Homo sapiens: one gene and its partners. The protein of the gene in region 1 interacts with the protein of each later gene in a pairwise test. Each region holds a gene or a part of one and is shown on either strand. Other genes may lie near its edges.

Region 1 (3,500 bases):
CTATTCCCCAAAATACATATTTTAATTAAATAAAAATACCATGTGTTGAGTATTTTGACATCACAATTACTTTCCTATTTTTTAATATTGTGATAATAAAAAGTAATGCTATTTTAAAATTATTACTAGAAAATCCATAGAAGCAATAAGCTACCTAGAAATATATTGGATATCAAAGAGAAAGTTCAGCTGAGGATGAAAATGTTATCAAAAACAATCCACATAGAAATAATAAAAAAAGAACTCTGCATATGTCCATCAAAGTCTCCCTTTACATATATGAAAATCGCCACAGCCTAAAAGCTACCACTTTAACACATACCCCAAAATACCACTCATACTAGTCTTTTATAAGTGCCTTTAATGTCACTAGAGAAAAATTCCTCTGGTGTAACCAAATGGTTCCCAATATTTTCAAGAATTAGGACCACTTTTCAATATATTAAAACATTTTCAGGATCCTTCTCCATCTTAGAAGCTGTACATTTGTTTATTTGATCTACGTACAGTGGCATGGCATACACATGGATTCACAGACCCCTTCCAATCACATTCCAGGTACACAGTCTATATCTATATCTATATCTATATCTATATCTATATATCTATATCTAGATATCTCCATGGCTCTGTTATTTTTATCTTTAGGAATAACCTATTCAAATAAAAATCTGTGAGACTCTAGCATCGAATGCTTTGTATCAGTTTATGAGATTACTTTCCATTATAAAAACTAGCTGAATTTGTGTCCCGAAGGAAATAGTACAAATAATCTTTCATTAGGGCTAGAGATATGGCTATTGATCTACAAGCCCAGAGCACTGATTTGCCTCCAGAAAGACAAACACATCTCTCTGACATCATCTACCTCTCTTCTATCTTCTTCAGTCTAGCCACACTGACCTTCTTGCTATTTCTCATTTCACTAAACTCATTCTTACTTTAGGGTCTTTTTAAAAAACACAACTATATTGAGATAAAATATATATATTAATACCATATAATTTATCCTTTTAAAGTATCCAATTCAGTGGTTTTTATAATATTCACAATTGTTCAATCATTGCCACTATCTATTTTAAGATATTTTCATCATTTCCAAAAGTAGTTGCATATTCACTCGAGAGGTGAACCAGAGGTCCCTTGGCAGTGTAGTAATATAATCAAGACACATCAAAATCTAGACATGCCTCAATAACTTCTAAAATCAACTATATAATCATGTTTCATTGCTTAATCAATAGGCCACAGAGCTTAGCTGAAGAGTTAAGGGATTGGTATCCTTACCAAAGTCTTCCTGTCCATTTCTAAATCAGTAAACTCTGTTAGCTACCGAACTCAAATACTTCCTAACCCAAATAGGGAAATATAATGAATATTTTTCCAGTGTAACTCGATGGATAACTTACTTCATGAATTCTCTATTCAAATAAATCCTCACATCACCTATTAAAAGCAAAATATTTTTGCAGATCATTTCAAATGTTAGGGAAAGGAAAGCCCATTGTTGAAAACTTTGCAATTAGTACTACTGAAAACAAACTATGCCCCAAGGAGAAAAAAAATAAAGCATATGCATTCTTTTTTTTTTTTGAAACAGGGTTTCACTCTGTCACCCAGGCTTTTATGTAACAAAAACATTAAAATCAAAGATTAAAGTAAAAATAAAATTCAAAGAATTCCAAAATTACAAATTTAAACAAAACCTTGGAATGTAAATTGAGATATTAATCTTTATATTTCTTTTTTTTTTTTTTCCGAGACAGAGTCTCACTTTGTTGCCCAAGCTGGAGTACAGCGGTACAATCTCGGCCCACTGAAACCTCCGCCCTCCGAAGTTCAAGCTATTCTGGTGCCTTAGCCTCCTGAATAGCTGGGACCACAGGCACGTGCCACCACACCCAGCTAATTTTTGTAATTTTAGTAGAGATGGGGTTTTGCCATGTTGCCCAGACTGGTCTCGAACTCCTGACCTCAAGTGATCCACCTGCCTCAGTCTCTCAAAGTGCTGGGATCACAGGTGTAAGCTACTACACCCAGCCTTATCTTTATATTTAACTTGCAATCATTATCCAAACTAAAAAAGGCTGAGACCAAAACTTTACAACAGAAAAAGATTATGTTAAAATAGTATACTTGACCAGGTATGATGCTACCTTGGTCAATATCCTGAATATACAAAAAAAAAAAAAAAAGTTTTGAGAAAAGGGCTTTTTAAAAGTATATATTGTGACTTACTTGGCTCCAAAAATACATAATACTAAAAGTTTTCAATTTAGTATACTTCACATAAATGAAAAGAGTAGCAGAAATATTAACTGGTAAAGAGTGAAGAAAGCTACAAATAAAATTTATAACAAAAATAATGTCAACAAATGATTACAAGTTGGAGTAGAATGCTCAGCAATATTATCACATAGAATTTTTCAAAGAAAATGTTAATAATTAAGTACCATTAACTTGGCCATGGTTGGTCTTGGTCCTCCTATAAATAAAGGATCGCTTTGCTCTTCTACACCTGGGACTTCACATAAGTTTGGATGCTGTTCAGTTGAGGTTGTCAACAACTTTGGTAAATGGAGAAATTGGATCCCACACTTAGAAGCTGCTGTTTTTACTCCTGGCACTTCCTGAATCCTCTGGTACCAAGAGGCTAGCAATGGAAATTCTACCAGCTTCTCAGAAAATTTCCTGCTGATAATTACCTAGGTAGGAAAATAATAAAACACATTATTATATATATTTTGTTTATAATAGCTGTGTTGAGGTAACTTTACAAACCACAACATTCACACATTTAAGTGTATAGTTCAAACAATGAGTTGTAGTAAATGTATCCAGTTATCAACCATCTAGTTTTAGAACACTTACGTCACCCCCGAAATTTCCCTTGTAACCATTTACACTCAATCTCTGCTACCACAGTCAGTTGCAGACAACCACTGATCGGCTTTCTGTGTTTACAATTTTGCCTTTTCTAGAATTTCATACAAATGGAATCATAAAATGTGGTTTTCTTCTATCACTTAGTATTATGCTTTTGAAGTTAATCCATATAGTTACATTGACCAATCGTTTGTTTCTTTTTATTATGACTAGTAGTCATTGTGTGGATATACTATATTTTGCTTACTCATTCACTGGTTGATAGATATTTGCATGTTTCCAGTTGTTGGTTATTATAAATAATGTTGCTATACATTATAATGTAGCAGTGTTTATGTGGCACTGTGTTTCATTTCTTTGAAAATCCAAGAGTCAAATTGCTAGGTTTTATGGTAACTGTATATTTAACTTTTAAAGAAATTAAAATCTTCTCCATGGTTGCCCTTCCATTTTACAATTCCCACTAGCAATCCATGGAGGTTCCAGTATCTCCTCACAACTTGTCAAACCTTGGTATTATCAGTCTGTTTGATTTTAGTCATTCTTGTGGGTATATAGTAGTGTCTCATTGTAATTTTAATTTGCATTTCCCTATGATTAATGATGTTGAGCAA
Region 2 (3,500 bases), about 95 Mb from region 1:
CCCCTGAATAATTCAAAAGGAATGTTTCATTTTGGCCAAATATGTCGTTAATATCTCTCTGCCATTTCTAATCTCTTCTTTAACAGAAGAAGAGCAGTCCTTATGCTGACAGCCATTAGCAGGTGATGGGATCCTGCTACAATTTAATAGCGTGTTTTGTTTGCGTTGCAATGACTTTTTAAAAAAATTAGGGAAAAATATTGTAAATCAAAAATAAAATTCTAAGGTCCCCCAACCATCTGAATGGACTTCCTCCTCTGCCAGGGCACTGTTAACATTTAACCTGAAAGACTAGTTTGGGTCATGATGGGAAGTAGGGGTCAGACACGCCTCATAGCTCTTCGGCACTAACATCTATCCAGACCTTAAGTCTGAGAAGAAGCATTTACAATCTATTCTCTCTGAAGCCTGCTACCTGAAGGCTTCATCTGTACAATGAGAACTTTGGTCTCCACAAGGCCTTATCTTCACCGATAATAAGCCCTCTATCTATCAGTGATATTCCCTTTCTATTGATCCCAGGTCTTTAGATAAACTCAACCTATTGCTAAAATTTACCTATAACCTGGAAGGCCCCACTTCAAGCTGTCCCACCTTTCTGGACTGAAACAATGTATTTGTTAAATGTAATCCCAACACTTTGGGAGGCCAAGGCAGGTGGATCACCTGAGGTCAGGAGTTCAAGATCAGCCTGGCCAACGTGGTGAAACCCCGTCTGTACTGAAAATACAAAATTAGCCGTGAGTGGTGGCAACATGCCTGTAATCCCAGATACTTGGGAGGCTGAGGCAGGAGAATCACTTGAAGCCGGGAGGTGGGGCGGGGGTTGCAGTGAACTGAGATTGCCCCATGGCACTCCAGCCTGGGCAAAAAGAGCGGAAACTCTGTCTCAAAAAAAATTAAAAAAAAAAAAAGCATATTTGATTGAAGTCTCCTATCTCCCTAAAAAGTATAAAACCAAGCTGCACCCTGACCCCCTTGGGCACATGTTCTCAGGATCTCTGGAGAGCTGTGTCACGGGCCATGGTCACTCATATTTGGCTCAGAATAAATCTCTTCAAATATTTTCCAGAATTTGACTCTTTTCGGCAATAATATAATAAGATTTACCATTTTAACCATTTTTAGGTGTATAATTCAGTGGCATTAAGTACATTCACATTGCTTTACAGCCATTTCCGCTATCCATCTCCAAGTTTCTAATGACTCCAAACTGAAACTCTGTATCCATTAAAGAATAACTCTCCATTACCTCCACCTCCTTCCTCAGGGCCCAGTTACCACCATCCTACCTTCCGTCTCTATGAATTTGCCTATTCTAGGTACCTTGTATTCCTGGAATCATATATTTGTCCTCCATGTCTGACTTATTTCACTCAGCATAATGTTTTCAAGGTTCTTGTATATTGTATCACGTTAGAATTTTATTCCTTTTTAGAGCTGTAAACTGTTTCATTGTGTGTGTGTGTATACCATTCTGTTTATCCATTCATCTGTCAATGGACATATAGGTTATTTCCGTCTTTTGTCTATTGTAAATAATGTTATGAACATGGGTGTACAAATATCTGAGTCTCTGCTTTCAATTCTTTTGGGCATAGACTAAGGAATGGAATACTTCTAAAGTCACTTTCTACAATATATAATACTAGTTAAAAAAATTAACCAGAGTAGTGATATAAAGTGAAAACAGGTCACCTTAAAGAATATTATTAACTAAATGTTATTATTGACAGGACATAGATATGCCACAAATCATAAAGGTATACTCAAATAGCTGAAATCAGGGAAATCCTGATGTGGTCCAAGCCTGTCTCATGCCTATGAGGAATCTGGGATCTGGGAGGGAGCGTAATCTTGTGTGGACCTCTAGTTAGAACCAAGTGATCCCCATGTTTACGAAGAAGATGAAAGAGCAAAAGGAAGCCGAGTGCATGACAAGGGACAATAAAAGAAGGATATGCATTTTTTTTTTTTTTTGTGATGAAGTCTAGCTCTGTTGCCCAGGCTGGAGTGCAGTAGTGAGATCTTGGCTCACTGCAACCTCCATCTCCCAGGTTCAAGCGATTCTTCTGCCTCAGCCTCCCAAGTAGCTGGGATTACAGGCATGTGCCACCACGCCTGGCTAATTTTTTTATTTTTGGTAGAGATAGAGTTTCTCCATGTTGGTCAAGCTGGTCTCGAACTCCTGACCTCAGGTGACCTACCCACCTTGGCCTCCCAAAGTGCTGAGATTACAGGCATGAGCCACCGTGCCTGGCCAGGATGTGAAAATATTTTCCAAAGTCTAATTTAAGATTATGAGACCCTTTTAGAATTAGGTAGAAATTAATATGAATATAAGGATAACAAAAGAGCTTTAGGATACTGTAGGAATTCACCAGAGATATTCTATACATTTGCTTCTGCTTAGAAATCTTCACGAACTCTGTAGCAGGACAGTGAGTAATAGCAGGATATGGGATGGAGACCTGGAAGAGGCACATCCTCTGGGGCTTTACAGTGAAAGACTTTAGTAAGTAACATCCAATGTGATGGAGAGAAAGCATACAAGATACAGTGAAACTTTATCCCCCCCACCATAGGGTAATGTAAGTAAAAAATGGTCCAAAAATAACCAATTGTAGTGAATGAGCATATTTTAGAAAGAGACCACAAAATAGATGACAGACACACAAGAACACAGTTAGTATCCATTTGCATCTCCCCACTCTTTACATCTCCATTAGGGTGGGGATCATAACCTCTAGCACATTGTCTGGCACATAATAACTGCTCAACTAATGGTCGCTGGACTGTTCAACTGAAATGAGTGTGTAATACATGGATCTTTTGCTGGAAAAAAATTGCAACCTGTATATCCTAGTTAACCCCCCACAAGATTATTGGACAGCTGGTAAATATAAAACACGTGTCTAAATATCTGTATTTTTTGGATTAATTTTTAAAAAAACACTTTAGAATCTGGAAACATGCCAGTCAAAGAATCTGGTGAGAGACCAATGTAATATGTTATATAGCAACATATTTAAAAATATTAAAATACTTTAAAAATATTAAAACCCAGTAACATATAGCCAGAAGGGAAAAAGTTAAAGTCAAACATAAATAATCTCCTTTTGGGCATTGTTCAGGAAAGCTCTATTTAGATGCCAAGTACATCTAGAAGGACTTGGCAGAGAAGTGTCTGCTTACCTTTCTATCAGACCTTTTGGGGAAAGGTGGTCTCCAGCTTGTGTATTTATAGGGCAGTATATTTTCGTGAGGGCTGCAGCTGGCTGGAGGCTGGCATCTCTGAGGAGAACAGGGCTGCATGCCTCCTCTATGATCTGGAAAGGTTAAATTCACATTTCAGTGTGATTTTGTGACTGGTGCAGTCTGTCCCCCACCTCCAGAAAGGAGCTGAAACCCTTTGCTCCTTCCTATATCTGTGAGGACCTTCTTGGTCAACACCATATCAGCTCACTCAGTGACCTTAATTCTCTCTGTTTTGTTCTCTA
Region 3 (3,500 bases), on another chromosome or scaffold:
CTCTGGGGCTCCCTTGCCTTGATGCCCTTCCAGAAACAGCCCTTCTCGAGCTTCTCCTGCACACCCCTGAGATGATCTATTTCATCTGAGCTGCCCCCCTACCTGGCTGTATGCTCTGGATAGGGCATGCTGATCTGGGTTCAAGGTCTGACTCTGTGGGCCTTTGGGCAAATTACGTAACATCTAGAACCCTCGTTTTCTTTTCCTTCCTTTCCTTCCTTCTTTCTCTCTTTCTCTCTTTCTTTCTTTCTTAGATGAAGTCTTGCTCTGTCGCTCTGTCACCCAGGCTAGAGTGCAGTGGTGCGATCTTAGCTCACTGCAACCTCTGCCTCCCCGGCTCAAGTGATTCTCCTGCCTCAGCCTCCTGAGTAGCTGGGATTACAGGCGCCCACCACCACGCCCAGCTAAATTTTTGTATTTTTAGTAGAGACGGGGTTTCACCATGTTGGCCAGGCTGGTTTCGAACTCCTGACCTCAAGTGATCTGCCCGCCTTGGCCTCCCGAAGTGCTGGGATTACAGGCGTGAGTCACCACGCCCAGCCCTTATTTTCTTATCTGTGAAATGGGGATGATAACAGCAAAGTCTACTTCACAAGCTTGTAGTGAAGCATGAATGGGTGAGTGAGTGCTCAACAAATGCTGGACCTGGAAAGAGAAAACCTCTCCAAACTATTTGATTTAGGCTCTTTCACCCTCTCAAAGCAGGCTGCTATTTATCCAACATCCATTCTATGCCAGGCATTGCGCTAAGAGCCTTGCCCGGGCTATCTCTTTCGGTCTGCACAGCAATCCTATAAGTAGGTATGATGAGGAAACTGAGGCTCAGAGAGGTCAACATTCTCAAATTTTCACAGCTAGGAGGTGGAGATGTTGAGCGACTCCAGTGCACACAGTTTTAACCGTGACACTAAAATAATCCACCAACAAGGTAGGAGTGAACCCCATTTCTAATGAGAACAAACAGGTCCCCCACCTTGGCATTGCCTCTTTGGGGCCCAGACCCACCTCTCTGTGGGATGGTGAGTTTGCAGGGCAGGGCCAGGGCCATGATGGAATGCTGGCACACGAAGGCAGAGAGGCTCCCTGAAAGGAAGCAAGCAGCCCTGCATGAGTAGAGCTTCCCCAACCCACCCCTCAGCTCACAACGGAGACTTCGCTGGCCCCCCATCCCGGGGGAGCCTGGAGGCTGGGGAGTCTCACCAAAGTAGGGCTCCTCATCTGCTCCTTTGAGATGCACTCCTTTGGCAGACGACTCGATGAGGAAGTGTCGGATGAGGTCATTGCTGTCCTCACCTGGACAGAGAAGAAAGAGTGCATTCGGATAGAATTCCACCTTGTGGCCGGGCGCGGTGGCTCACGCCTGTAATCCCAGCACTTTGGGAGGCCGAGGTGGGCAGATCACTTGAGGTCAGGAGTTCGAGATCAGCCTGACCCACATGGTAAAACCCTATCTCTACTAAAGACACACACACACACACACACACACACACACACAGTCACACACACAAAGCCGGGCGTGGTTCACATGCCTGTAGTCCCAGCTACCCGGGAGGCTGAGGCAGGAGAATTGCTTGAACCTGGGAGGCAGAGGTTGCAGTGAGCCGAGATTGTGCTACTGCACTCCAGCCTGGGTGACACAGTGAGACTCTGTCTCACCGGAAAAAAAAAAAATTCCACCTTGTCCATCCCCCTGCCTCTCCCTCCCACAGAGGAGGTGCCAACACATCTGCTCAATGGCTCCAGCCACACCCTCTTCAGGAAACCTTTCTCTTCTTCTTTTTTTGGGGGTGGGGTGGGGAAACCTTTCTGCTGGTCAAGAGTTATCAGGGATTTTTTTTTTTTTTTAGACAGAGTCTTGCTCTGTCTCTTAGACTGGAGTGCAGCGGCATGATCTCGGCTTACTGCAGCCTCAACCTCCTGGGCTTAAGGAATCCTCCCACCTCAGCTTCCTGAGTAGCTGGGACTACAGGCGTGCCCCACCATGTCGGGCTAATTCTTTTGTAGAGACAAGGTCTCACTATTTTGCTCAGGCTGGTCTCGAACTCCTGAGCTCAAGCAGTTCTCCTGCTTCGGCCTAGGGATTATTTTATTTTATTTTTTTTAGACAGGGTCTCATTCTTTGGTCTAGGAAGGAGTGCAGTGGTGTGATCATGGCTCACTGCAGCCTCAAAGACCTCCTGGGTTCAAGTGATTCTGCTGCCTCAGGCTCCCAAGTACCTGGGACTACAGGTGTGCTCCACCACACCTGGGTAATTTTTGTAGCGACAGGGTTTTGCCATATTGCTCAAGCTGGTCTCAGATTCCTGGGCTCAAGTGATCCTCCTGCCTCGGCCTCCCAAAGTGCTGGGATTACTGGCGTGAGCCACTGTGCCTGGCAAGGAAACTTCTTAATTATTTAGATAAATGTCGACTCTTTGGTCTGGTTTCTGTCTCCCCCTGCCCACCAGGTCATCTCTGCTGGAGCCACGCTGGCCCCGGGGGTGGGGAGGTGAACAATGACCTTCTGACTCCTTTCCACCAGTCCACAGTGTCCTCCTCAGTCTGGGCTCATTGCCTCTTGCAAGGCGTCCTTTATAAGTAACACCCTCCCCAGAGGTCACTTTCTTATTGTGACAGTGAGGCATACTGTCAAGAACACAAGGCTGGGTGTTTCATCCTCCCTTTATCACTTAATTGCTCTGGAGTCATTAAGTAACTCTGGGAGCCTCCGTTATCTCATCCGTTAAATAAGAAGGTGCAATCCTGGGGTTTGAGTGAGGCCTATGACCCAGGTACCTTGTACTGTAATCATCTGTTTTCATCTGTCTCCCTAGTGAGGTGGTGTCTGTGTCTGATTCCACTGTATCCCTGCTGCCTCACACAGTGCCTGGTGTGTGGTGATGCTCCATAGATGTTTGCTATCAAATAAGCATGGGAGACCACAGGAAAGCATATAAGCTATCACACACATGTGCGCTGAGCTAGTACACAAACCTGGTAAGCTATCACCTGTGAGATAAGCTAGCTGCGTGTGTAATCACACATTAGGTTCCCTGGAAATGAATCCAGTTTGACTCCAAGAAGAGCAGCCTAGAGGGGGCTAGGACCCTCCTCCTTCTCTCCCACCATCAGAAAAAAGCAGGGAAGTGGGGGTGGGGCTCGGGAAGGCAGAAGCACGCAGGCTTGCTGTGAAAGGCGTTTTTCAGGGTGCCTTGGGGCTGGAGGGCATCGGGGAGAACACTGGGGTGGACGCTTCTCCTAGGAGCTGTTATAAGACTGGCGCCATGTCACCCTGAAAGCTAGTGCCAGAGCCAGGACTGGAACCTACCACACCCCGCTGCCTCAGTGAGGCCTTGAGTGAGCACAGAGACAGACGCATACCTGGTCGACTCTGAGCAGACGCGGGAACCTCCTGCACCTTCAGGGCCAGGCCGAAGGAGCCTCGGTATGAAGAGCTGTCCCTTATGACAAAAGCCCCTGGCTCCTCCTTCCTCAGCAGCTCGATTGCTGGAACAATCCTT

Evidence for each region.
Region 2: the proteins of GSTCD (region 1) and CLNK interact in a two-hybrid assay, tested with the Homo sapiens proteins (one large-scale study listed by BioGRID and IntAct).
Region 3: the proteins of GSTCD (region 1) and TNS4 interact in a two-hybrid assay, tested with the Homo sapiens proteins (one large-scale study listed by BioGRID and IntAct).

Annotation. Positions count from the first base shown.
Region 1 is NC_000004.12:105,725,784-105,729,283, reverse strand, and holds part of GSTCD (glutathione S-transferase C-terminal domain-containing protein), read right to left. Parts: intron 2,706-3,500; coding exon 2,454-2,705; intron 1-2,453.
Region 2 is NC_000004.12:10,510,269-10,513,768, forward strand, and holds part of CLNK (cytokine-dependent hematopoietic cell linker), read right to left. Parts: intron 3,330-3,500; coding exon 3,196-3,329; intron 1-3,195. UniProt on the Homo sapiens protein: An adapter protein which plays a role in the regulation of immunoreceptor signaling, including PLC-gamma-mediated B-cell antigen receptor (BCR) signaling and FC-epsilon R1-mediated mast cell degranulation.
Region 3 is NC_000017.11:40,481,124-40,484,623, forward strand, and holds part of TNS4 (tensin-4 precursor), read right to left. Parts: intron 3,487-3,500; coding exon 3,361-3,486; intron 1,294-3,360; coding exon 1,201-1,293; intron 1,084-1,200; coding exon 1,006-1,083; coding exon of another isoform or gene 974-1,005; intron 1-973. UniProt on the Homo sapiens protein: Promotes EGF-induced cell migration by displacing tensin TNS3 from the cytoplasmic tail of integrin ITGB1 which results in dissociation of TNS3 from focal adhesions, disassembly of actin stress fibers and initiation of cell migration.